Linked DNA regions of Homo sapiens. The protein of the gene in region 1 purifies or fractionates together with the protein of each later gene. This does not show direct contact. Each region holds a gene or a part of one and is shown in the gene's direction. Other genes may lie near its edges. The genes, in order: CSNK1G2, HACD3, ZRANB2, GPATCH8, OAT, LARP1 and NBEAL2.

Region 1 (2,667 bases):
GCCGCGACGACCTGGAGGCGCTGGGCCACATGTTCATGTACTTCCTGCGCGGCAGCCTCCCCTGGCAGGGGCTCAAGGTGGGCGAGGAGGCCGGGCAGGCGGGCGGGGACGCAGGGCGGGAGCAAGGCTGACCACAGACCCCCGCAGGCCGACACGCTCAAGGAGCGGTACCAGAAGATCGGGGACACCAAACGCGCCACGCCCATCGAGGTGCTCTGCGAGAACTTCCCAGGTAAGGGGTCCCTGCGCCCCCGCCCTGTGCCCCCCACCCCCCACCCCCCACCCCCACCCCCGCCGAGGCCCCGCTGGCGCTCTCTCTGCAGAGGAGATGGCCACGTACCTGCGCTATGTGCGGCGCCTGGACTTCTTCGAGAAGCCCGACTATGACTACCTGCGGAAGCTCTTCACCGACCTCTTCGACCGCAGTGGCTTCGTGTTCGACTATGAGTACGACTGGGCCGGGAAGCCCCTGGTAGGTGGGGGGGTGCCGGTATGTGGGAGCGGGGGACCGGGAAACTGCCCTGAGGGAGATGGGAACCGGCGCTGCAGCCCATCCTGACCCCTGCTCCCTCACCCACAGCCGACCCCCATCGGCACCGTCCACACCGACCTGCCCTCCCAGCCTCAGCTCCGGGACAAAACCCAGCCGCACAGCAAAAACCAGGTGAGGCCCGGGCGGGACCGACCGCCCCAGGGAGGGGCATGGGCGGCCAGCGTGACCCCCTACTGCCCCCACCAGGCGTTGAACTCCACCAACGGGGAGCTGAATGCGGACGACCCCACGGCCGGCCACTCCAACGCCCCGATCACAGCGCCTGCAGAGGTGGAGGTGGCCGATGAAACCAAGTAAGGCTCTGGGGCGGTGCCTTCGGGGAGGTGGGGGTGCCCTGGGTCCCCATGGGGGTGGGAGGGCCTGAGGCCTGGGCTGCCCCCGCCCTGCACCCCGGTCCTCCTACCTGAGCCACTGCCCTCCTCAGATGCTGCTGTTTCTTCAAGAGGAGAAAGAGAAAATCGCTGCAGCGACACAAGTGACCCTGGGCGCGTGCAGCCCCCTGAATCTTCTCCGTGCAGCCCCTTGGGGCGCGACCTTGTGCGAGGCCCTCGGGGCCCACCCACAGCGGCCCAGGGCCAGACCCTGGCTGGAAGCCAGAACGCAGACTGCAGGGGCCGCGCCTGGCTCAGGCGGCCCCACCCCCGGGACGTGGGGTCACTTCCTTCATGTAAGACTTTGGCCGAAATTTCTACACCTGTGTCTAGTCCTCCCCTCCAAGAGCATTAACTATTTAAAACAAGGAAAAGAGGAAAAAAAAAACAGAGGCCCGCCCTACCCCACTCCTGCCCCTCCGTTTCTTTGCTGAAGTGAGTAGTGTGATCCTGGAGGCCCCCCGGCCTGGCCCCGCCCCGCCAGCCGCCCCCGTTAGCGTCATAAAGTCCAGCTTGTCTCCCTCGATCCAAAGGCCGTTTTCTCGAGGGGAGGGCAGGCCCGGCCTGGAGGGGTGCTGTGGAGCTGTCTTGCCCAGGCCCTCCTGGGAGGGGGACAGGCATTGTTGCCAGGGGTGAGGCCGTGCCCCAGGCCTCCCCGAAACCAAAGGGGAAGGCAGGGGTGGGGCCGTGGCTGAAGCCGGCTCCCCAACCAAAATGCTGCACCAAAGCTCGGGCGCCGCGGGCACGGCTGCTGCAGTCTCTTCCCAGCCTGGCCCTGGCAAGGGGCGGGTGGGCGCTGCCAGGCGGGTGCTTCTCGACGCACTTGCTCCCGGAGGCTGCGCCCCGGCGCCTGGAACCCGAGGTGGGAGGACCGGTTGGTGTCACCCTGCTCGGCCCTCAGCCCTGCCGCGTGGGGCGCGTGGGCACGGAGCTTCCTGCCTCTCTGCTCCGACACCCGGCAAGCAGCCGGAGACAAAACGCCTTAAAGCCCCCGGCCCAGCCCTGCAGGTATATTGCAGGGGCCTGGGGGCGGCCCTGGACTGGCGGGCGGTTCCCCAGTGGGGTGCCCTGGAGGCTGCCGGGCAGAGTGGAGCAGCTTGGGGCCGTGCCCAGGGCGGTGGCTGTGAGTCTAGTTTTTGCTTTACCAAGTGTACAGAAATGGCATTTACGTTTCTCTGATGCTCCCTTGAAGCCATAGAATTTAGGGGCTTTTTTAAAAAAATAAAAGAAAAATGAAACCAAACCCAAGTGTAGAGGGATTTGTCTGGGCTTTCCACGAAGCTTGACCTGGAACGGGCGTTGCTTCCATCCCCATCCTGCCTGTCCGGGACGAGTCCGGAGCGGCTGGCGGCCTCCGGTAACAGAAACCGACTGATGAGGCGGAAGGTAAGGAAGATGGAAGCAGAGGGCAGAGCTGGGCTCTGTCTGGGGAGAGGGCAGGAGACGAGTGTTCACGTACCATGGAAAGGGGAAGTCACACACATGCGACTTGGCCCCGGGGGTCCCGTTCCCCGACACTACACAAATATACCTGAAAGCCTCAGCGACGGGGCCCAGGCAGGATGGTCCTGGCTGCTCTGACGGCGGAAGGCCTCCTTGACTCCCTCTGTTCACGCAGCAGGGCAGAAAACATCTCCACGGGGGCCACGACACTGTGAAGGGAATCAGCAGTAGCTCCCAGAAGAACAGCGGAAACTGCAGGCAGGTGAAGACCTTGGCAGCACTAGCCCCGGCTCCGCCCCG
Region 2 (3,500 bases), on another chromosome or scaffold:
ATTCTCCTACCTCAGCCTCCCGAGTAGCTGGGACTACAGGCATCTGCCACCACGCCTGGCTAATTTTTGTATTTTTAATAGAGATGGGGTTTCACCATGTTGTCCAGTCTGGTCTTGAACTCCTGACCTCAAATGATCTGCCAGCCTCGGCCTCCCAAAGTGCTGGGATTACAGGCATGAGCCACCGCACCCAGCCATTATGTGTATTTTACCACAATTTTTAAAATGGGAAAAAGAAAAAAGCAAAAGGTCGAGAATATTCTTTAAAGACGAGCTCAAATTGGGGACTTACCCTATAAAAAATCAAGACAGTATAAAGATTTAGTAGCTAATACCACGTTGTATGGTACAAAGATAGTCACACAGACCACGGGAACAGAATAAAACCCAGAAACAGACAACCCAGATATCTATGAAGAATAGAATGTCTATCATATATTGGAATGTCTTGCCACGTGAAAATGAGTGGACTATAGCCACATGCATCAACATAGATGAGTCTTGGCCGGGCGCGGTGGCTCATGCCTGTAATCCCAGCACTTTGGGAGGCCGAGGCGGGTGGATCACAAGGTCAGGAGATCGAGACCATCCTGGCTAACATGGTGAAACCCCGTCTCTACTAAAAAATAGAAAAAATTAGCTGAGCGTGGTGGCGGGCGCCTGTAGTCCCAGCTACTCGGGAGGCTGAGGCAGGAGAATGGCATGAACCCGGGAGGCGGAGCTTGCAGTGAGCCAAGATCGTGCCACTGCACTCCAGCCTGGACGACAGAGCGAGACTCTGTCTCAAAAAAAAAAAAAACAAGACCAAAAAACATAGATGAGTCTCTGGCCCGTAACTCTGAGTAAGAAGTAGTCACAGAATGATACATATAGAATGATTTCAGAAAGTTTTAAAACAGGCAAAATGAAACAATATACTGTTCAGGAATACATACACAAGCAGTAATTCATAAAGAAAAGCCATGGGCCAGGCACAGTGGCTCATGCCTATAATCCCAGCACTCTGGGAGGCTGACGCAAGAGGATCACTTGAGCCCAAGAGTTTGAGCAAGCTTGGCCAACACAGTGAGACCCCGTCTCTACAAAAAAATAAAATTAGCCAGTGTGGTAGTACACACACCTGTGATCCCAGCTACTTGAGAGGCTGAAGTGGGAGGATTGCTTGAGCCCAGAAGTTCAAGGCTGCAGTGAGCCATGATTGCACCACTGCACTCCAGCCCGGGTGACGGAGCGAGACCCCGTCTCGATAAAAAAGAAAAGCCATGGAATTATTAACACATGATAGTAGTTATTTATAGGGGTCCCACGTTTGTAGTGCTCTATTTCTTAACTTGGGTTATATAAACTCAAATGTTTATTTGGCAGTATTCTTTAGACTGCGTTTGAACATGTGTCTGTATTTTAAAGAAATGATTTATGATATAGTTACACAAAATACTGTACCTGTCTAGTCACAAAGACTGGTTTGGGCACTTTACTTGTTCCAGAACTGGAGCAGGATTAAACTGGTCGAGGTCAATCTTTTCTATTTGCCTTGCATTTAGTGGGGTTAGATTTCAGATAACACATTTCTATAACTTTACATATATTTTATTAACTTTTTTCTCTCTTTTGGGTCTTTCTAATAGCTTCTTGGAAGAAATTTTATTTTGTTTATCATCTTTGGCACCATGGAAGAAATGCAGAACAAAGCTGTGGTTTTCTTTGTGTTTTATTTGTGGAGTGCAATTGAAATTTTCAGGTGGGTAGAAATGCCAGGATGGTGTTTGAATGCTGCTCCCTGTTTGCAGCAGCTCTGTTCTTGAGGGAGTTGTTATCTTAGCCAGAGTCTCATTTGGTTTGGGACTAAGATTACATATGTGGAGAATTCTGGTTGCACCTATGTGCTCTGCAAAGTTGAGACAGATTTTTTTAAAGCCGTCATTGGATCATAATACCAGACTGGATACTAGGGAGCAGAAGAGGAGAACCAGAGAAAGGGAAGACTCATCTTACCATGACTTCAGGATCTTGCAGTCTTGGAAAGAGAGGACCCATCCACATGGAAAAATTCTTGAAAGGGCTGAAGAAACAGGAGGTTGAAGGAGCAATCCAGGTTGGATAGAACTAATTTAAGACTAAATTTCTACAAGGGATGATAGAAATGAATCTTATACCACAAGATTATTGAAGTTTGAAATGGCCTCTAACCCAATTTTCCCGTTCTCGGTTGTTAGTAGCATAAATATCTTTTAAGAAATGGATCTAGTTAAAGTAGATGTATTCTTCTTTACCAGACCATACACACTCCATATGTCTTCCCTTTCAGTCAGCTGGAGCAAGGATTTTGCAAATGAACTTCTCAGCTCCAGGTTTGGTGGTATTTTGACAAAGTTGCTAGTTGAGAGAGAGAACAGGCCATAGCAGCCTTAAATTGTGTCTTAACCATGGTCTGTGTCCCATGGCACCCAGTGTACCCTCTAATAGCCTTAATACAAAGGTAAAACAGATTATAGGTCCTATGTTTTTCAAATCAGACACGTAATGTGCTGATGTAACAAGGTTTGAGGGAAGCACATCTCACACAGGAGAGTGAAAATCCAGTTATCACACTTATGAGCTATAAAAGGATCAGATTATGGGTCCTTAATGCAATGTTTACTGTTTGAGAAGGAACATTTATTTTCTCAAGGGATGTCTTTTAAAATAGCATATGTCTGATTCTAGATTAGAGGTCTTCTGTATACTTTAATTTTGGTAACAACTCACTTATCCAGAAATAAAGTATCTAATATCCTTACCCACCGGGAATGTATATCAGCACTAGGAATAAAGCCAAAAAACATCTGAGTATCCAGTCCGTTTACCGAATAAAGAGGGTTCCTTTGAGACCTAAACTTAGTCTGCCATTAAAGAGCGTTCAGATCCTTTGAAAATTTAGGGCGCAGTGTGGCAGGAGTTTATGGGTTGATAGCCAGCGTTATAATTCTGTTCTGAAGAAGCCATGTGTGGCTGAGAAATAGAATTCTTCTATTTAAATGATATTCTAAGGTTGCATTCGGAACCTGAAGTGGCTTTTCACATTGGAATCATTTATTTTCAATAGGTACTCTTTCTACATGCTGACGTGCATTGACATGGATTGGAAGGTGCTCACATGGCTTCGTTACACTCTGTGGATTCCCTTATATCCACTGGGATGTTTGGCGGAAGGTACTCTCAGGGACTCTTAGCTTTCATAGCTTAGCTCCAGGGGGTACCCAGAGGCTGAGAGACCAGTCCTTTCTTCCCCGGCCTTAGTCCGATAAATGGAAATGTTGGATTTTTCAGGGATTTCTTTCCATGGGCTTCCTTCCATAATACTCCTGGTACCCAGACTGTTCGAGAAAAGTAGCTCATTTTGTAACATTGGAAAGCCAGGTGGTTATGTCCTGCATGCTTCCCATTTGTATGATGCTTTTAGTATTCCAAAGGGGGTTCTTACTGATGACTTTATTTTATTCTGACAAACATCTCATACA
Region 3 (3,500 bases), on another chromosome or scaffold:
GTCTAATTATAGGTAGGTTTCTTAATGATTTTTATTTTCAGGCTTAGATTTAATTCTTCATTGATTTTTCCAACTTCCATCTTTTCTCTATGCAGATGAATCCTATGTGTATGAAAGAGGTCTAAATCAAAAAAGTATTAAATAAATTTCTCTTTTTGTTTGTTTGTATTTTTTGTTTTTGAGATGAGGTCCCACTCAGTCACCCAGGCTGGAGTGCAGTGGGGCGATCTCAGTTCACTGTAACCTCTACCTCCCAGGCTCAAGCAATCCTCTCACTTCAGCCTCCTTAGTAACTGGGACCACAGGCCCATGCCACCATGCCTGGCTCATTTTTTTATATTTTTGGTAGAGACAGGGTTTTACCATGTTGCCCAGGATGGCCTCGAACACCTGAGCTCAAGCATTCTGCCTGCCTTGGCCTCCCAAAGTGCTGGGATTACAGGCGAGGCATGGGCCACTATTCCTGACCCTAGAGTCTTAAATAAATTTCTGATCCTCAGGATTATAAATTTGTATTGGAAAAGTTTCCAGCTACAGATTTGGTCACTGGATTTGGTATGCTTTGGAATTCAGTGCTTGAACTGAGACCTCAAAAAAATAAATTAATATTATTTATAGGGTATAACCATACTCTTTAAGGTATATTCAGAGACTGAGAAATTAGTGGAGCTGTTAATTTAAAGTTATATTTTTTCATAAGACATCAGAATTTCTATACAGGTTCAGTATCACTTACCTGAAATGTTTGTGGGTTCAGCATCCCTAATCTGAAAATCTGAAATGCTCCTGTGAGCGTTTCTGTTGAGTGTCATGTCCTCTCTCAAAAAGTTTTAGATTTTGGAACGTTTTTGGATTTTGGATTTGTGGATTAGTGATACTCGACCTGTGGTTATAATTTGTCATTTACTTCTCAAAATGACAGAGGCACTTTTCATACTATATAAATTTTGCTTCTCTGCTTAAATGGTTCAGTCCGTTGTTGGAACCCACATTTACTCTTCAGGCCACTGTACATTTTCTTTGTTTACATTACCACTTAATAAACATTTCTTTGACAGTGGTTTCATCCTAGTTTTTATTTTAAAATTGTAAAATATCTAAAAATTTGATATTCATCTATATTATAGCCTACTAATTTAGTATTTTTCACTTCTAAAGTTGCAGCAATGTGAATTGGGCCAGAAGATCAGAGTGTAATATGTGTAATACTCCAAAGTATGCTAAATTAGAAGAAAGAACAGGTATGATAAAACCACATTGTAACTAAATGATTTTTTTTAAAGCACTAAATATTGAAACGATAATTGTATCACCTTCGAGTAAGAGCCACAGTAAGTGAGGATTCTGTTTATTCTGCCCTGAATGTTTGTTACTGGGATTTTTTTCCCCCCATACACACATACAAATCTTTTGTTTCACAATTTATAAAATAACAGTGTTAGGGACCTTTATCCTAACAAGGAGGGACATAAGAATACTTTCAGAAATATTCTCCTCCTCTCCCTTTCACTGGTTTGCATGTTTGTTATTAGTAATGATATAATGATACCATTTTTAAATTCTTTTGATAGCCTGCTGTGACTTAAAGGGCAAAGCCACACCATTTAAAGTGTTCTTCTAAAGCTTTGGCAGTAATTCTGAAACTTAAGCTATGTGCTAGATTATCTGAAAAACTTTTTCAAATATCGATTGCAAAATGCAGAACTGTTAAAGTTATTTGGCGGTGGGTTTCCAACATCTGCAGGTTTTTTGGATGGTGTTTGATAATCATTGGCCTAAATAATAGTTGATCATTGGCTTTGTATGTTACTGGTGAAATGAAAATGTTTACCTAATAGCATATAGTTTTTCCATTATCACCAATTAGCCCAACCACATTATCTGTTTACTTAAAATCTGATTTTGTCTTTCAACTGCTTATATGTCACATGATCAAAGGATTCCTTCTATATCTAGTCACCCTGTCAGACTTAGGCTTGGTGAACTGCTTCCCTGTTTTCTTTGCCTCTCTAACTTTAGGCCGTTTTCATTGTCTGTTTAGTTTCTAGGGATCAGAGGGCCACTGTTCAATCTTTTCGACCTAGCTCTTCCAGACTTCAACAGAAATTCTACTTTTATCCCCCCCCACCCCTTTTTTAAAACTTACATTCTCATATGTGAGAACATTATAACATAATGTCCTTGATCCCCCCTTCCCCAGCCCAACCGCCACTTTCAACCCTCAAATCCTGCCTTATTCTTAGGAAGTGATTTTGCCTTTCCACCGATTGGGTAAGTTAAGGCCTTCTGACAAGGATCTCGTTTTTTTCTTCCCTCACCTAAGGTATGCACCGTACCTCCTTCACCGCCCCCACCAACCCCCGTTTGATTGATTGTTTATTCTGTCTCCTTTGCAGGTTTCTCTTCTTTTGGCCACTGATGTTGGGATTCTTCGCAGCCATCCCTGGCCCTCTTTCTTTCCTCTATTTTCATGGTGTTTTCTTCTAAGCCCAAAGTTTAAGTAACTTTGCCATGATAACCCAAGTTTATGTCTCCAGCTCAGACTTCTTTGACCCATATATCCAGCTGCCTATTCAACATTGCCATGCAAATGTCAAACTCATTATATTCAAACTGAATTTGTGATTTTACCCCTGGGACCTGACCCTCTTCCAATGATCTCTTTCTCATGATTAGTACCACTCACCATACATTTATTACATAAGCTGGAAATCTAGATGTCCTTCTTAGCCTAAATAGCCCTTTCTTGATATCTCCCATACCCCAAAAATTCTTTTCCATTACCACCCTAGGCAAAGAATTACTATGTTTTGTGGAAAAATAGCCACCTAGCTGGTTTCTACATGTTTTTATTTCCAAATTTAAAATCCTTTTTTAAAAAACCCATTTTGATTGCTTTTAGGATAAAGTCTAAAATCTTTTTAACAGTTTCAAAACTTAAAAAAACTTTGACCTATTTCCTGACTCCTTTATAGTTTCATTATCACAAGAACTATAGTTTAACAGAGAAGTAAGCAAATTTTATTTGATAACTTCTCACTTTTCTTATTGTCATTTTTCAGTCATTCTGGTGTCTTGAACCTTTCTCACTTCCCTTGCTACAAGTATTTGTCTTTGCTGGTAACAGTTGAAGGTGTGAAATAACTTACTCTGTTGCTTTCCGCTTTCTTTTGGCTATTTGTAATAAAGCAGTGCAGGGTTTGGGGAGCATTTCCTAAGCATGAGACAGGATATGAATAAAAGAGAATGTGATTCACTACCTCTGAAAGATTGCTGCTGGCTTATCCTGCATAATTCCATCAAATTGTTCAGTAATTTACTTCTCTGTTTCAGGATTTAGGATTATTTTTGTTTTTGTCAGCTTTTTTTTAAAAAAAAAACCATTAAAGATAATGGCATAAAAACAAACTTAGTACATTGTGATTTTTATTCTTTTGGATTCTTTCCTTAGAATATGTTCTCAGGAGTTGAATTAATTGTTCAGGGTGTAGAATCACAGA
Region 4 (3,500 bases), on another chromosome or scaffold:
TAATGGTGTATTACATTGTAGTGGTGTATTACATTGATTGATTTTTGTATGTTGAACCAACATTGAGTTCCTGGGATAAATCCCACTTCGCCTTTTAATATGCTGTTGAATTTGGTTTGATAGCATTTTGTTGAGCATTTTTGCATCTGTACACAGAAAAGATATTAGTCTGTAGTTTTCTTGTAATGTCTTTGTATCAGGGTAATACTCAGAATAAATTAGGAAGTGTTCCTTCCTCTTCTATTTTCCCTTGCATTTTAAAATGGTTTTTTAATGTGTTTTGTATCCTAAATATGTATTGCTTAGTTTTATGTAGTGGGTGGGTGGGTGGGTCGGTGAGTTGGTTGGTTGGTTGGTTGGTTTTGAGACAGTCTTGCTTTGTTGAGACAGTCTTGCTCTGTCGCCCAGGCTGGAGTGCAGTGGCACGATGGCTCACAGCAACCTGTGCCTCCCGGGTTCAAGCAATTCTCATGCCTTAGCCACCCAAGTAGCTGGGATTACAGGCGTGCGCCACCACGTCCAGCTAATTTTGTTTTTTTTTTTTAGACGGAGTCTTACTCTGTCACTCAAGTTGGGGTGCAGTGGCACGATCTCAGCTCACTGCAGCCTTCACCTCCTGAGTTCAAGCAATTCTTGTGCCTCAGCCTCCCGAGCAACTGGGATTACAGACACGTGCCACCATGCTCAGCTGGTTTTTGTTTGTTTGTTTGTTTGTTGTTTTGTGTGTGTGTGTGTGTGTGTGTGTGTGTGTGTGTGTTTAGTAGAGACGGGGTTTCACCATGTTGGCCAGGCTGGTCTCGAACTCCTGACCTCAGGTGATCCACCTGCCTTGGCCTCCCAAAGTGCTGGGATTACAGGCGTGAGCCACCACGTGGCCTAGTTTTACATGTTTTTTAACTTTATATAAGTGGAATCAGTTTTCTTGTATATATATATACACACAAGATTTTCTCCAGAGTGTGACATTTATTTATTTTCTTGTTTCCATTGCTGTAAGGGGTTAAACCTGTGTTCAAGGAATACACATAGGCTTAACTTCTTAAAGCAATATACTTTAGCCTCTGTATAATGTTGTCATTATCCTTTTTTACCTTAAAATTCTGCAGCTTCAGATTCATGGAAGGGTCTTTTAAACATTTTTGTTAATTCTTAGCTGTATTATACTGTGTTGATATATGTTGTGCATATTACTTCTTCATTTCTGACTTTATTACAGTTTCTTCTATAGCCTATAATGGGCTTTTTGTCTGTGTAAATATTCTTTTTTTTTGAGATGGAGTCTCTGTCGCCCAGGCTGGAGTGCAGTGGCGCCATCTCGGCTCACTGCAAGCTCCGCCTCCCGGGTTCATGCCATTCTCCTGCCTCAGCCTCCCGAGTAGCTGGGACTACAGGTGCCTGCCACCACGCCCGGCTAATTTTTTGTATTTTTAGTAGAGACAGGGTTTCACCATGTTAGCCAGGATGGTCTCGATCTCCTGACCTCGTGAACCGCCCACCTCGGCCTCCCACAGTGCTGGGATTACAGGCATGAGCCAGCGTGCCTGGCCTTGTCTGTGTAAATATTCTATGAGTACTGTTTATTTGAGATAGGGTCTCACTCTGTCACCCAGACAGGATCTCACTCTGTCACCTAGAAGTGCGGTGGCAGTGATCACAGCTTACTGCAGCCTCGACCTCCTGGACTCAAGCGATCCTCCCACCTCAGCTTCCCGAGCATCTGGGGCTACAGGTGCATGCCACCACACCCAGCTAATTTTTATATTTTTTGTAAAGACAGGGTTTCACCATGTTGCCCAGGCTGGTTTTGAACTCCTAGGCTCAAGCTGTCCACCCACCTCAACCTCCCAAAGTGCTGGGATTACAGGTGTGAGCCACTATGCCTGGCCTCTACAAGTACTTTTTTTTTTTTTAATTGAGATGGAGTCTCACTCTGTTGCCCAGGCCAGAGTGCAATGGTGCGATCTCAGCTTATTGCAACCTCCACCACCCAGATTCAAGTGATTCTCGTGCCTCAGCCTCCCAAGTAGCTGGGATTACAGGCGCCCACCACCACACCTGGCTGATTTTTGTATTTTTAGTAGAGACAGGGTTTCATCACGTTGGTCAGGCTGGTCTCAAACTCCTGACCTCAGGTGATCCACCCACCTCGGCCTCCCAAAGTGCTGGGATTACAGGAATGAGCCACCGCACCCAGCCTACGAGTACTTTTTGAAGGACTTCCCCAGCCTTCCAAGTAACTGGGACTACAGGTGCACACCACCACGCCTAGCTAATTTTTTGTATTTTTGGTAAAGATGGGGTTTTGCTATGTTGCCCAGGCTGGTTTCAAACTCTTGAGCTCAGGTAATCCGCCTGCCTCGGCCTCCCAAAGTGCTGGAATTACAGACATGGGCTACCACGCCTGGCCTATTTTATTTTTTAAGTTATTATGTGGTCTCAAAGTGGGAAATAAATGGATGGATGGATGGATACATGGATGGATGGATGGATATAGGATGGATTATATTTGTGTTGTTCTAGTTACCTTTATAACTTAATGAAATTACCCATGTTTGAGTGTCCATTATTTTCGTACTATAAGCAATAAAAAGCTAGCTTGTTTTCTCTTCTTTCCTCTTCCATTTTAAAAACTCTATCATATAATGTTAATAAGTAAAATGGCCATTCTTAGTATGTGGCTTCATACCATTTAATTATTATATTATGTACACTACTTCTATTACTTAATAATTTTCATGTTTTGTAAAGTTCTTTTTACTTCTATTGAGTTTGCAGAAGTAAGCAAACTCAAATTCATATCTGCTTCTGCCTGCCCACCCAGTTTTTTATTATTTGTATCATTTCTATTTTCTGACAGCATATAACATACATAGTTATATGTATATGTTACAGTTATATGTATATACTTTAATAGCCCTATTTCTTTTAACCTTAGTTATAGGAGTAAATGGTTTTAAAGCAGTCTGCCAGTTCTTTTGCTGAGTTTTCTTCTATTATTTCTGAATTTTGTACCCTATTAACTTACTTAAAAGTGGTTGTGCAAACAGTGTTTCTTGAATTATTTATATATATATGTATTTTATATAAACATAAGCCTATAAAAATAATTCACATCCAGCCTTGGGCACCATGATGAAACCCTGTCTCTACGAAAAATACAAAAATTAGCCAGGCATAGTGGCATGCCCCTGTGGTCCTAGCAACTCAGAAGGCCGAGGTGGGAGGATTAATTGAGCCCAGGAGGTCGATGCTACAGTGAACTGTAATTGCACTACTGCACTCCAGTCTGGCCAATAGAGCAAGACGCTGTCTCAAAAAAAAAAAATAGTAATATTAATTTAGGCAATTACATATATATCAACTTATGTATATGTGTGTATATATGTACACATACATATAACTCCATATATACGTGTATGTATTCCCTATATTTGAAAGATACATATAAAATCCTAAGTTAATTCTTTCCTTAGATATCTTATAGTATTTATTGTACCACT
Region 5 (4,051 bases), on another chromosome or scaffold:
TCTCCATCCCTTGTGGTTTACTTGCCTACATTGATTGATTGATTGGTTGATTAAGATAGATGGTCTTGCTTTGTTGCCCAGGCTGGAGTGCAGTGGTGCAGTCATAGGTCACTGCAGCCTCAACCTCCTGGGCTCAAGTGATCCTCCCACCTCAGCCTTTGGAGTAGCTGGGAACATAGGTGTGCCACCACACCAGATTAATTTTTATTTTTTTTTGTGGAGACGGGGTCTCACTGTGTCGCCCAGGCTGGTCTGGAACTCCTGGGATCAAGCAATCCTCCTGCCTCGGTCTGCCAAAGTGCTGGGATTACAGGCATGAACCACGGGCCCCCACCACCACGTTTTAGGAAATGTTCACATTGGAGTGTGCCCTCTGTTTCCAGCTGGGCCCCCGACTGGTCATTGTGGTCTAATGGAGTGTGGTGCCGGCAGCTGCCAGCGCCTGCCCTCTGAGAGGGGTGGCGAGGGGCACACAGGACCAGACTGCCCCTACTGTTGGATGACTGGGTAAGTCGCTTTCCTTCTCTGGGTCTCTGTTTTCCAATATTTAACATCTTGTTGTGGGCTAAGTGAAGTCCAAGTCCCTTCCGATTCTAACATGAGGTTGTCCCGGAATATCTATTTTGTGTTCTGAATTTAATAACCGGCTGTGGAGGGCACCACAGGCAAATCTGTACTGTGAGTGGGTTGCTGCCACTCAATTATCTGACAGCAGCTGCGAACAGGTGGGCAGTGTGTTTTCCATAGGCAGCGACGACTTTTGGAGGTGGATTCAGAGGCACAACTAAGCCGCGCGGCGCATCAGGGTTCAAGGGCATGGGGCTCCCGCAGCTGTGGCTGGGGCAGAGCTGGGGCTGGTCCCTCCCTCCAGGAGCACAGGGCGGGCGGTCCAGCCTCACGTCTCTCGGCCTCCAGCCACACCCGGCCCGCGCAGTGGGGGGCCCAACAGACTTTTCCTTTTCGGGCCTCAGTCTTCTCGTCAGCAAGGGCGGACAAGGACTCTTCTCGTCCCGCCAGAGGAGGCGACCGAGGGGCCTGAGCTCAGGTACAGGCCGGCGGGCTCAGGAGGCGCGAGCGCGGATCGAATCCGCGGGAGGAGCAAAGATCCTTGATGCGCGGCCGGAGGGCGGGGCGGAGGACGGGACCCACGCGATTGGTATCCTGCCCTCCGCCCCAGCCAATGAGCGGCGAGGGTGTCTTGGGGGCGGGGCAGAATCAGCCTTTAAGTTGCAGTGACTCTCCGGCGTCACTGTTGCGCTTCATAGACGCCGCGTGTACCCGGTTGTCCTCAGGCGCTGTCAGGTACCGTCTGGGCGCCGCTGTCCTGGGGCTCTGGTTCGGGCCCTGGCCGGGGTTCCCTGACAGCGGCGGGGGAGGCGGGCGGGCGCGGGGTGGCCGCGGCCCGGGTTCGGGGGATGCTGGCTGAGGGGGCGCGCTGGGCCTCGGCCGGGGAACGAGCCCCGCTTCAGCGGCCCGTTTACTCTGCGGGCGGCTCGGACCCGGGCGCCCTGGAGTCTCCGGCCGGCGCGCAGCTTCAGGGGGCAGGGGCGTGGCGACCCACGGCTTGCAGGCCGGAGTCCTGGTTCCAGCCCAGAGCGGCCGACGGGCGGGCGGCAGGGAGAGGCTGAGGATGTGGCAGCCCCGCCTGCCAGACCGGGCGGAGCCGCCGCCCCCTGCGCTCGCGGCCTGTGGAGGCCAGGACTCGGCCCACCCGGCCCAGAGACCCCGAGGCGCCCCGGGGTTCCGGGTAGGAGGCCTTTGGGCACCCTTGGTTCCTGGGGTTGGCGGGGAGGCTGCGTTCTGGGGACGGGGGAGCTGTGCAGTAAACCGGTGGCCCTGGTCACGCGGCGGGGGCGCTGATGCAGCCTTGGAGGGCTGGGTCCTCCCGGCCTGCTCCTGCGCCCTGCAGATCGGCCTGCCCATCGCTCCCCTCTTCCAGCCTATGATTTTTTTTCTCCAGCCTCTGTCGAAATAAAGAAAATTACGGAAGCAGAACCTTCCTTACAGTAACGTGCAGGTTAATTAGATGGTGGGGGATGGGGGGGCAACAGGACTTTCAGCATGAAAACCTCCCGTTGGGGGCTTTTTGCAAACCCTGCTGAGCATCAGTAAATGGGCCTGGCCAGTGCGTTTCCTCGATCGCCTTCCCGGGCGGGACGGGAGGGGTCATTGTCCGCCCTTTGCTGGCGAGAGGACTGAGGCCCGAAGTCACCTGGGCACTCGCCCTGTGACCCACCGTCTCCTTTTGTCACTCTACATCTTACCTTTTCGGTGTTCAGTTTTACCTCTTAGATAAATTACGGTGATAAATTAAGGGCGAACAGACAGTGACTTTGGAATGAAGTGGCTTTACCTTAAGAAATGACTAATGTTCAGTTTCCAAATTCTAAATTTCTCCTTCTGGGATTGAAAGGGTTTCTGTGGATAAGCTAGTTCTTTCAGTTAACCCCGGAACTGTTCTTTAGATTGTAATCAATCGCTCTTAGCCATGTGAAATAACAATAGACTCCTTTCATTAGAATATCCTGGTTCTGTCTTTAGATGAATCTTTTCATAAAAACGAGCGTTAAATTAAAAAGCTTATTTTTAGCCCGGCACGGTGGCTCACACCTGTGTAATCCCAGTATTATGGGAGGCCCAGGCAGGCGGATCACCTGAGGCCAGGAGTTTGAGACTAGCCTGGCCAACATGGTGAAACCCTTTCTCTACTAAAAATACAAAAATTAGCCAGACATCGTGGTGCGCGCCTGTAATCCCAGCTACTCGGGAGGCTGAGGCAGGAGAATTGCTTGAACCCGGGAGGCAGAGCTTGCAGTGAGTTGAGATCGTGCCACTGCACTCCAGCCTGGGCGACAGACTCCGTCTCGAAAAAAAAAAAAAAAAAAAAAAAAGCTTATAGTTTTGGGTTTACAGTTTTTCATGGTGTTTAAGATTAGTTTTGCATCCCCCCCCCAAAGAAAAATCCAGTATAACTTTAAATAGTAAACATTTTTAAAAGACATTTTTCCCTCAAAGCAGCTGTCTTAATATGTATTATCCCCATAGCGTGCCTTTATTACAGTTATTTGTGTGCATATTTTATGCCCTTTAGTGAGTTCTTGAGGACCTTTCAAATCTCAAACATTTACAAATAGTGATGAATGCACGAATTTGGATGTGTGTGGAGGATGTGCTGTAGTTGACCCCGGTCCTTTCTCAGTAGTAAAACTAGTTGTTTGCCAATGATGCACTTGGCTTGAATTTTAGCCAGAATACTGATTACGTCAAAGAGACTTCTGTTGGTAGAACTTTTTTTTTTTTTTTTTTTTAAAGGCCTGTATTTGTGAATGGTTACCTCAGGAAAAGTAAATATTTGTCAAAATAGCAAGAACAAATTTACTCCTCAAGTTGAATATTTTAAGTGGCTTTTGGACAACTTTACGCCGACTATTCTTTTAGAGTAAGAAAATAGTTTTTAAGAGTATAGGCTAAATTAACTTCAAAATGCAGCCTTTTGTGGAAATTCTACTGTAGGTATGTTCTAATGTAGATGGATGGGCTAGATGGAGGGAGTAATGGTAGCCTGAAGGACCCTGTTAATTACGTGGATAAAACCTTCAGTGTTAGAATTCTAGCTTGCCAAGAGCAATTTGTTCTCATTTCCAGGACCTGAGTATGGGCGTCAGGTAGATGCATGATAGCTGCCTGGAACACATTATTTTGACCTTTGAAGGCCATTAGATCTAATGAAGTAAACTCTTGATGAAGAGATGAGTTATTCTAGATGAGGTCAGAGAGTGAACACCCCCTCTTAGAGTTAGACTCAACCTGGTCAGGGATAGGTGATCCCATGGTCTTGATCACTTGCTACCTTGACTCCCTCAGGAGTCCTAAGTAAGACTGACCTCTTTATCTGATAAAGGCCCACAGGATGCCCAACCTGGGCTAGGTTCTAGGAATGCAAAGTGAATTTTACTGTTTTTTAAAGGAGCTTAGAGTATAGACTTATAGGCATAAAAACAAGTGGCCTGCAGTGTTAGGACCCGTTACAAGTCTGCACAGTCCCTGGGAG
Region 6 (3,500 bases), on another chromosome or scaffold:
GGTTTCATAGGTGACCAGTGAGATTTGGTGGTTTGTTTTCGTATCATTTGTTATTATAAGCTTATGGGCTCAAACGTATTTATTTTGGTCCATTGCAGTTAATGGATTGGATCAAATTGTCCCACCTTTGGTCAGTGGGACCCTATACATTTCCTGCCCCAGATCTGGAATTGGCCACTTTTAAAAGGAATTCTAGTTCCTTTCTTTTGGGAAATGGTATTTAGATACCAGTCTGAGTTATAGGGGTGCTTTATTGCTACTTGGTTGGTCATTCTTTCTAGATGATTTTTTTGTTTTTTGGTGAGATAAAATACATCATGGAGTTATTCTGTTTTGTTGTTGTTGTTTTTTTTTTTTTTTTTTTTTTTTTTTTTGAGACAGAGTTTCACTCTTGTTGCCCAGGCTGGAGTGCAGTGGCATGGTCTCAGCTCACTGCAACCTCCACCTCCCAGGTTTAAGCAATTCTCCTGCCTCAGCCTTCCAAGTAGCTGGTATTACAGGCATGCACCACCACACCCAGCTAATTTTGTATTTCTAGTAGAGATGGGGTTTCACCATGTTGGCCAGGTTGGTCTCGAACTCCTGACCTCAGGTGATCCACCCACCTCGGCCTCCCAAAGTGGTGGGATTACAGGCATGAGCTACCGCGCCCGGCCTGTTCTGGTATTTTCTATTAAAGGGTCTTTACGTAGACTTGTGGATCTTTTATTTTACCTACTGCTTTCTTCCATGCCCATAATCTTAATTCCTAATGATACCAACATAATTACTCATTTTGTTTTATTTCACAGTATGTCTACCGTCTTTTTTTTTTTTTTTTAAACATTTTTTAAAGAGAGAGGGTCTTGCTCTCACAGGCTAGATTGCAGTGGTGTGATCATGGCTTACTGCAGCCTCAACCGCCTGAAATCAGGCAATCCTCTTGCCTCAGCCTCCTGAGTAGCAGGATTACAGGTGCACACCACGTGTGGCTAATTTTTAAATTTTTTGTAGAGATGAGGTCTTGCAGTGTTGCCCAGGCTGGTCTGAAATTCCTGGGCTTGAGCCATCCTCTCACTTCGGCTTCCAAAGTGTTGGGATTACAGGCGTGAGCCATTGTGCCAAGCTCTACATTCTTACAATACCTCCACTACCACTGAAAACAGTTTTTCCACTTATACAGTATCTTCAAGTCATTTGAAAGAATCTTTGTGTGGTTTCACATTTAAATTGATATATATATTAGTTTTATTTTGCTTCCAAGTTTTAGAGATTGCTTTCTCCCTACCCCTATAATTTTCTAAGTTGTTTTACATTTGTGTAAAACATTTACGTGGTTCTAGAGTCTCAGCATGGTATAGTCATAGAAGTCTGACTTAAATTCTGTCACTTACACCCTTTCTTCTCTTACAGGCAAACTTTTTAGAACCTTTCCATTTAAGAAAAAAGCAAATGCCTCTACATGTATTTGTATCCTTGGTAAATGGAAATATACAACACATGGCATTTCTTCAATTCTTTTTTGTTTTAACTTAATATATCTGGGAGCTAACTGCAAAGTAGCAGTATATAATAGAAAGATATTCCTCATTCCTGTGTACAGTTGCATAGTTCACCATTGTGTGGAATGCTCCATGTTTTTTCAACTGCTGCTCCTATAGATGGATGTTTTGGTTGTTTTTTTGAGACTAGGTCTTGCTCTTTTGCCCAGGCTGGAGTTAGTACAGTGGTGTTATCAAAGCTCACTGCAACCTCAACCATCTAGGCTCCCAAGTAGCTGGGACCACAGATGTATGCCAGCGCCACCTTTTTACGATTTGTAGTGATAGAGTCTCGCTATTTTGCTCAGGCTGGTCTTGAACTCCTTTGCTCAAGCGATCTACCCACCTTGACCTCCCAAAATGTTGGGATTACAGGTGTGAGCCACTGTACCCAGCCTGCTTTTTTGATTAATATTTTGTGGGTTTATCCACCTCAGCACATGTAAAGTTGGTTGTTTTTTTGTTTGTTTGTTTGTTTGTTTGTTTGAGACGGAGTCTCGCCCTGTCGCCCAGGCTGGAGTGCAGTGGCACCATCTCGGCTCACCACAACCTCCACCTCCTGGGTTCAAGCGATTCTCCTGCTTAACCTCTCGAATAGCTGGGACTATAGGCGTGTGCCACCACAACCAGCTAATTTTTGTATTTTTAGTAGAGATGGGGTTTCACCATGTTGGCCAGGATGGTCTCAATCTCTTGACCTTGTGATCTGCCTGCCTGGGGCTCCCAAAGTGCTAGGATTATAGACGTGAGCCACCAGGCCCGACCTGTAAAGTTTTTTAATGTCTGAGTAGTGTTCCATCATGCATATGCTGTAAATATTTAAATTGCCTATGCGATGGCAAGTTAGGTATTTTATAGTTCTTTTTCTACTCTAGTTTTACTGTGAATGGCTTTTTGTCCAGATATTATACATACTGCTCCCTGTTTGTGCAAGTGTTCTCTAGAGCAGATTACTGGAAGTAGGATTGCAGGCTCAAAGAGTAAAAGGGTAGGTGTATTTATTATGCTGGTACCTCCTACAAGTTTGAACATCTCACATTATCTACCAGTCGTGGAAGATGGTGTCAATTTTCTTATATTACTGGTAGCATTGGACTCATACCAAGCTCAGGGGAACCCAGTTGTCTACCATTTCCAAGATCTTTCTGTCCAAGATTTTCTTCTTAATCCCCTCTTCCTTCTCCTCCCCTTCAGGCCCTAAAGGACAGCAAGGTGGTGGAGATCGTTGATGAGAAAGTTCGTAGGAGGGAGGAACCAGAAAAGTGGCCTCTTCCCCCAATAGTGGATTATTCACAGACTGATTTCTCCCAGCTTCTCAACTGCCCTGAATTTGTTCCCCGTCAGCACTACCAAAAGGAGACAGGTAGGTACCTGCTGGCATGAAGATTGCCCTTGTCCTCTGGGCAACAGTCCTCCTCAGGGCTGGCATCAGGAGGAGGACTGGAGGGATGAGGACTTCCCCTTTCCACCCTTTAGAGTCGGCACCTGGCTCTCCTCGTGCAGTCACCCCAGTGCCAACCAAAACAGAGGAGGTCAGCAACCTAAAGACACTACCCAAGGGCCTGTCTGCCAGCCTGCCTGACCTGGATTCTGAGAACTGGATTGAAGTGAAGAAGAGGCCTCGGCCATCCCCAGCACGGCCCAAGGTGGGTGAGGCCTTGTCCCTTGCCTTGGTTCTAGCACTCTGAGCTAGGGTGCTTGAAGGGGATAACACATGGGCACAGCACTCTAGCTCTGAGGGGCCAGCAGGAAATCTGGGTAGTTCAGGATCATAGTGTGAGTTGAAGTTACCAGTAGTGGCTACAGAAAGGTTGATTTGGCTTGTTTCCATTTCCTGTGGGGAACCACCCTTTAGGGCGCCCTACTGTGTGAGTTCCTCGGTGACATTTTTCTTAAGGGATCATGCAGCATCTGGCAGCGATGTTTCTGGCTTCTTGATTCTTGGCTCTTCTTTTTGCTCCATCTAAATTTCTGGGGCTG
Region 7 (3,500 bases), on another chromosome or scaffold:
GGGGTCTCTCCTGTGGTCAGGCAGTCTCTGGATGGGGTTTGGCCAGAGGCCTAGCAAGGTCTGAAGCCCCCTGCCCACCTCCCAGGGCCCAATGAGACGGCACCCTTCAAGCCTGAGGGGGAGCTGCATGAGCTCAGCACCAGGCTGCTCCTCCATTACTCACCTCAGGTATTTGGGGGCCCCAGGGGAGTGGTTGGCTCGACTGTGCTACTTCCCCGGCTCCCACACTCTGCCTGCCACCCCCTCCTCCCTCTGACCCTGGCTGCCTGCCCATTCCCCTATCCCTAGGCTTGTAAGAACAACATCTGCCTGGACCTGTCCCCCAGTCATGGGCTTGATGGGCGCCTGACGGGCCACAGAGTGGAGACCTGGGATGTGAAGGTCTGTGAGCACGTGTGGGTGGTGTGTGCAGGAGGCATGAATATGGGGCACATGTGTGTTCGGAGTCAGCTGGGGAGCAGCGCTGTGCCTGGGGAGGATTTGGACAGTCCAGCTCAAGAGAGCAAAACTTCCTTTCTGGGTGGTCTGCTGGGGTGGAGTAGGGCAGGAAACTGGCTGGAAGGTCCCCCTCACTGCCATCCTCCTTCCCCCAGGATGTGGTGAACTGCGTTGGGGGTATGGGTGCCCTGCTGCCCCTGCTGGAGCGAGTAGCTGCACAGCCCAAAGAGGCTGAAGCAGGTCCAGCTGAAACGCATGACCTCGTGGGTCCTGAACTGACCTCTGGTCACAACACCCAGGGCCTGGTTCTCCCATTGGGTAAATCTTCAGGTAAGTGTTCCTGGTGCCTATGTTGTGGAGAGGGAATCTTGGCATGGTAGGGGGGTGGAATGCCCAAGGTCTCCTGGCCACTGGCAGGCCCTTGACACACATCTGTCCCCTTCCTGATGGCTGGCAGAGGAACGGATGGAGAGGAACGCAGTGGCTGCTTTTCTGCTGATGCTGCGGAACTTCCTTCAGGGTCACATGGTGAACCAAGAGAGCCTGGTGCAGTGCCAGGGGCCTGCCATCATCGGGGCCCTCCTGCGAAAGGTGGGGCCCGGTGGGACAGGCATGGGGGTTAGGGGTATGGTCAGCCTGTCTGACCGAGGGGACTGAGTGGGGAACCCTGTCAGTCATGAAGAACCTCCTGGGAGAGTTGCCACTTGAGTGGGGCCTGAAAGGCCGAGCAGGGTTGGGTCTGGAGGATCTGGGGAAAGGCCCAGCACAGGTCGGGGCAGGGACCCGCACAGCAGGCAGGAGGCTTGCGTGTCAGAGGCGGCAGGAAGCCCCCAAAGGGTTCTGAGCAGGCTGGTGGCCATGTTTGTGGCCGTCATGGCTGTGCAGGGAAGAGTGGCAGCTGAAAAGCTCAGACAGCAGACAGGCAGAGCCTGAGCCCTCACTCCAGCTCCTGTCTTATCCCAGGTCCCAAGCTGGGCCATGGACATGAACGTGCTCATGTCCGCCCAGCTGCTGATGGAGCAGGTGGCAGCTGAGGGCAGCGGGCCCCTCCTGTACCTACTCTACCAGCATTTGCTCTTCAACTTTCACCTCTGGACCCTCAGTGACTTCGCCGTGCGCCTCGGTAGGTGTGAGGACCTGAGCAAGGGGCCGGCCATAGGGCAGCTGAGCACTGAGAAGTTAGAACTCTGCTCTGGGGGATCTGAGGGACTCACCTGTTAGGAATCCAGAATGCCATGGGGCGGCTGAGGGGACTATGACCCTGCCCTGGAAGTCTGACAGGCACATGGCCCTGGCCTGGAGGATCTGAAGGGCCCAGCTCAGCCTAGTGGCCTGAGCCCTCTGCTCATTCCCGCTCAGGTCACATCCAGTACATGTCCAGCATAGTTCGGGAGCACAGACAGAAGCTGCGGAAGAAGTACGGCGTCCAGTTTATCTTGGATGCTCTGCGCACCCACTACAGGTGAGGCCAGTGGGGCCAGATGGGCCATGGGGGGCTGACACAGTGGCCTCCGGCCTTGGGGACTGGGCGGTGCGCTTCCCTGACTCACCTGCCCACCCTCTCTCCCCGCCTTTCTTTGGGACCTGGCTGGGTGTGCCTACTGACCTGCCAGCCCGCAGCGGGAGCGCCCCCTGGCTGCTGACGACCTACGCACCGTGCAGACCTCCCTCCTGGGCCTGGCGAGGGAGTTCCTGGTGCGGAGTCTCTCAGCAGATGACGTGCAGGTCACGCAGACCATGCTGAGCTTTTTGGCGGCCACAGGCGATGACGGTCAGGTAGGCTGGAGGTTGGGGAGCGGGAGGCTTGGGTGAGGGGAGTGGGGGCCCGACACAGTGTGAGACCCTGCATCCCCAGGCGGTGGGTGCGCTGGACCTGCTGCTGGCCCTGCTGCACGGTTCCCTGGTGCAGGAGTCCTTGGCTGTCTTTCTGTTGGAGCCAGGGAACCTCGAAGTGCTACTGGCCCTGCTAGTGCGGCCAGGGTCACTGCCCCTGCTGCCCGATCGAGTCTGCAAGGTACACCCAGCCCACCCCCTCCCCTGGCATCCCATTCACTGGGGCCCCTGCCTGGGGTTCAGGGAGGTACAGCAGGCCTTGGGCCAGCGGATGAAGCTGCCTTCAAGGGCCTCTTGAGCCACACACCTGCACGGTGACTTCCCCTCCTACAGTAACTCCTTCCACATGATGACAGTCCTCCGATGACCCCCACACAGATCCTGCGCAGACTGCAGCAGAATGAGCGGCTACCTGAGCGGAGCCGCCAGCGCCTCCGGCTGCGGGAGTGTGGTCTCCAGGGTCTGGTTGCCTGCTTGCCTGAGGGGACTGTTTCCCCCCAGCTCTGCCAGGGCCTCTACAAGCTGTTCCTGGGGGCAGGTACAACCTGGTTAAGGCCAAGTGGAGGGGGTGACATGTCAGAAAAACAGGGCAGGCAGGCCGGAAGAAGGAAGATAGTGGCATAGGGGCCAGGGCTGGGCCCTGCCCTTTCTAGTCTGGTCAGTCCCTCAGGTCCCCCCAACCCATCCCCCCAGATTGCCTGAACCTCTCAGATCTGCTGGCTGTGGTACAGCTGTCCCTCCAGGCTGACCTCAGCGTTCGCCTAGACATCTGTCGCCAGGTGAGCATGAGAGGTAAAAGCTTTGGGGGAGGGGGAGGGTGGCTTCTACCCTCTGGCCTTCCACCTTGCCTGTCTCATGAGGGGTCTCTGGAGCCCTCCTCTGCAAAGGCCCTGGATGAGGGTCTGGAGCAGGCAGTTGGATGCGTCCTCACTTGCTGTGCTCTCGCCTGCAGCTTTTCCACCTCATCTACGGACAGCCAGATGTAGTGCGGCTTCTGGCCCGACAGGCTGGCTGGCAAGATGTGCTGACCCGGCTATATGTCCTGGAGGCTGCCACAGCCGGCAGCCCCCCTCCGTCTTCCCCAGAGTCACCTACCTCCCCCAAGCCAGCCCCACCCAAGCCACCCACTGAGTCACCTGCTGAGCCTTCAGATGTCTTCCTGCCCTCAGAGGCCCCCTGCCCTGACCCTGATGGCTTTTACCATGCTCTCTCCCCATTCTGCACGCCCT

The links.
Region 2: the proteins of CSNK1G2 (region 1) and HACD3 fractionate together in Homo sapiens (co-fractionation; one large-scale study listed by BioGRID). This does not show direct contact.
Region 3: the proteins of CSNK1G2 (region 1) and ZRANB2 purify together in Homo sapiens (affinity purification with mass spectrometry; one large-scale study listed by BioGRID and IntAct). This does not show direct contact.
Region 4: the proteins of CSNK1G2 (region 1) and GPATCH8 purify together in Homo sapiens (affinity purification with mass spectrometry; one large-scale study listed by BioGRID and IntAct). This does not show direct contact.
Region 5: the proteins of CSNK1G2 (region 1) and OAT purify together in Homo sapiens (affinity purification with mass spectrometry; one large-scale study listed by BioGRID and IntAct). This does not show direct contact.
Region 6: the proteins of CSNK1G2 (region 1) and LARP1 purify together in Homo sapiens (affinity purification with mass spectrometry; one large-scale study listed by BioGRID and IntAct). This does not show direct contact.
Region 7: the proteins of CSNK1G2 (region 1) and NBEAL2 purify together in Homo sapiens (affinity purification with mass spectrometry; one large-scale study listed by BioGRID and IntAct). This does not show direct contact.

What each region holds. Positions count from the first base shown.
Region 1 is NC_000019.10:1,979,172-1,981,838, forward strand, and holds the end of CSNK1G2 (casein kinase I), read left to right. Parts: coding exon 1-77; intron 78-147; coding exon 148-232; intron 233-323; coding exon 324-472; intron 473-580; coding exon 581-664; coding exon of another isoform or gene 665-739; coding exon 740-846; intron 847-977; coding exon 978-1,032; 3' UTR 1,033-2,167; downstream 2,168-2,667. UniProt on the Homo sapiens protein: Serine/threonine-protein kinase. Casein kinases are operationally defined by their preferential utilization of acidic proteins such as caseins as substrates. It can phosphorylate a large number of proteins. Participates in Wnt signaling.
Region 2 is NC_000015.10:65,568,463-65,571,962, forward strand, and holds part of HACD3 (very-long-chain (3R)-3-hydroxyacyl-CoA dehydratase 3), read left to right. Parts: intron 1-1,628; coding exon 1,629-1,741; intron 1,742-2,510; exon of another isoform or gene 2,511-2,611; intron 2,612-3,085; coding exon 3,086-3,192; intron 3,193-3,500. UniProt on the Homo sapiens protein: Catalyzes the third of the four reactions of the long-chain fatty acids elongation cycle. This endoplasmic reticulum-bound enzymatic process, allows the addition of two carbons to the chain of long- and very long-chain fatty acids/VLCFAs per cycle.
Region 3 is NC_000001.11:71,074,536-71,078,035, reverse strand, and holds part of ZRANB2 (zinc finger Ran-binding domain-containing protein 2), read left to right. Parts: intron 1-1,158; coding exon 1,159-1,241; intron 1,242-3,500. UniProt on the Homo sapiens protein: Splice factor required for alternative splicing of TRA2B/SFRS10 transcripts. Binds to ssRNA containing the consensus sequence 5'-AGGUAA-3'. May interfere with constitutive 5'-splice site selection.
Region 4 is NC_000017.11:44,426,907-44,430,406, reverse strand, and holds part of GPATCH8 (G patch domain-containing protein 8), read left to right. Parts: intron 1-3,500.
Region 5 is NC_000010.11:124,416,124-124,420,174, reverse strand, and holds the start of OAT (ornithine aminotransferase, mitochondrial isoform 1 precursor), read left to right. Parts: upstream 1-1,251; 5' UTR 1,252-1,302; intron 1,303-4,051. UniProt on the Homo sapiens protein: Catalyzes the reversible interconversion of L-ornithine and 2-oxoglutarate to L-glutamate semialdehyde and L-glutamate.
Region 6 is NC_000005.10:154,796,877-154,800,376, forward strand, and holds part of LARP1 (la-related protein 1), read left to right. Parts: intron 1-2,714; coding exon 2,715-2,883; intron 2,884-2,996; coding exon 2,997-3,166; intron 3,167-3,500. UniProt on the Homo sapiens protein: RNA-binding protein that regulates the translation of specific target mRNA species downstream of the mTORC1 complex, in function of growth signals and nutrient availability.
Region 7 is NC_000003.12:46,996,666-47,000,165, forward strand, and holds part of NBEAL2 (neurobeachin-like protein 2), read left to right. Parts: intron 1-85; coding exon 86-168; intron 169-288; coding exon 289-381; intron 382-593; coding exon 594-768; intron 769-895; coding exon 896-1,029; intron 1,030-1,401; coding exon 1,402-1,561; intron 1,562-1,797; coding exon 1,798-1,900; intron 1,901-2,051; coding exon 2,052-2,214; intron 2,215-2,293; coding exon 2,294-2,452; intron 2,453-2,604; exon of another isoform or gene 2,605-2,634; coding exon of another isoform or gene 2,635-2,649; coding exon 2,650-2,809; intron 2,810-2,964; coding exon 2,965-3,050; intron 3,051-3,223; coding exon 3,224-3,500. UniProt on the Homo sapiens protein: Probably involved in thrombopoiesis. Plays a role in the development or secretion of alpha-granules, that contain several growth factors important for platelet biogenesis.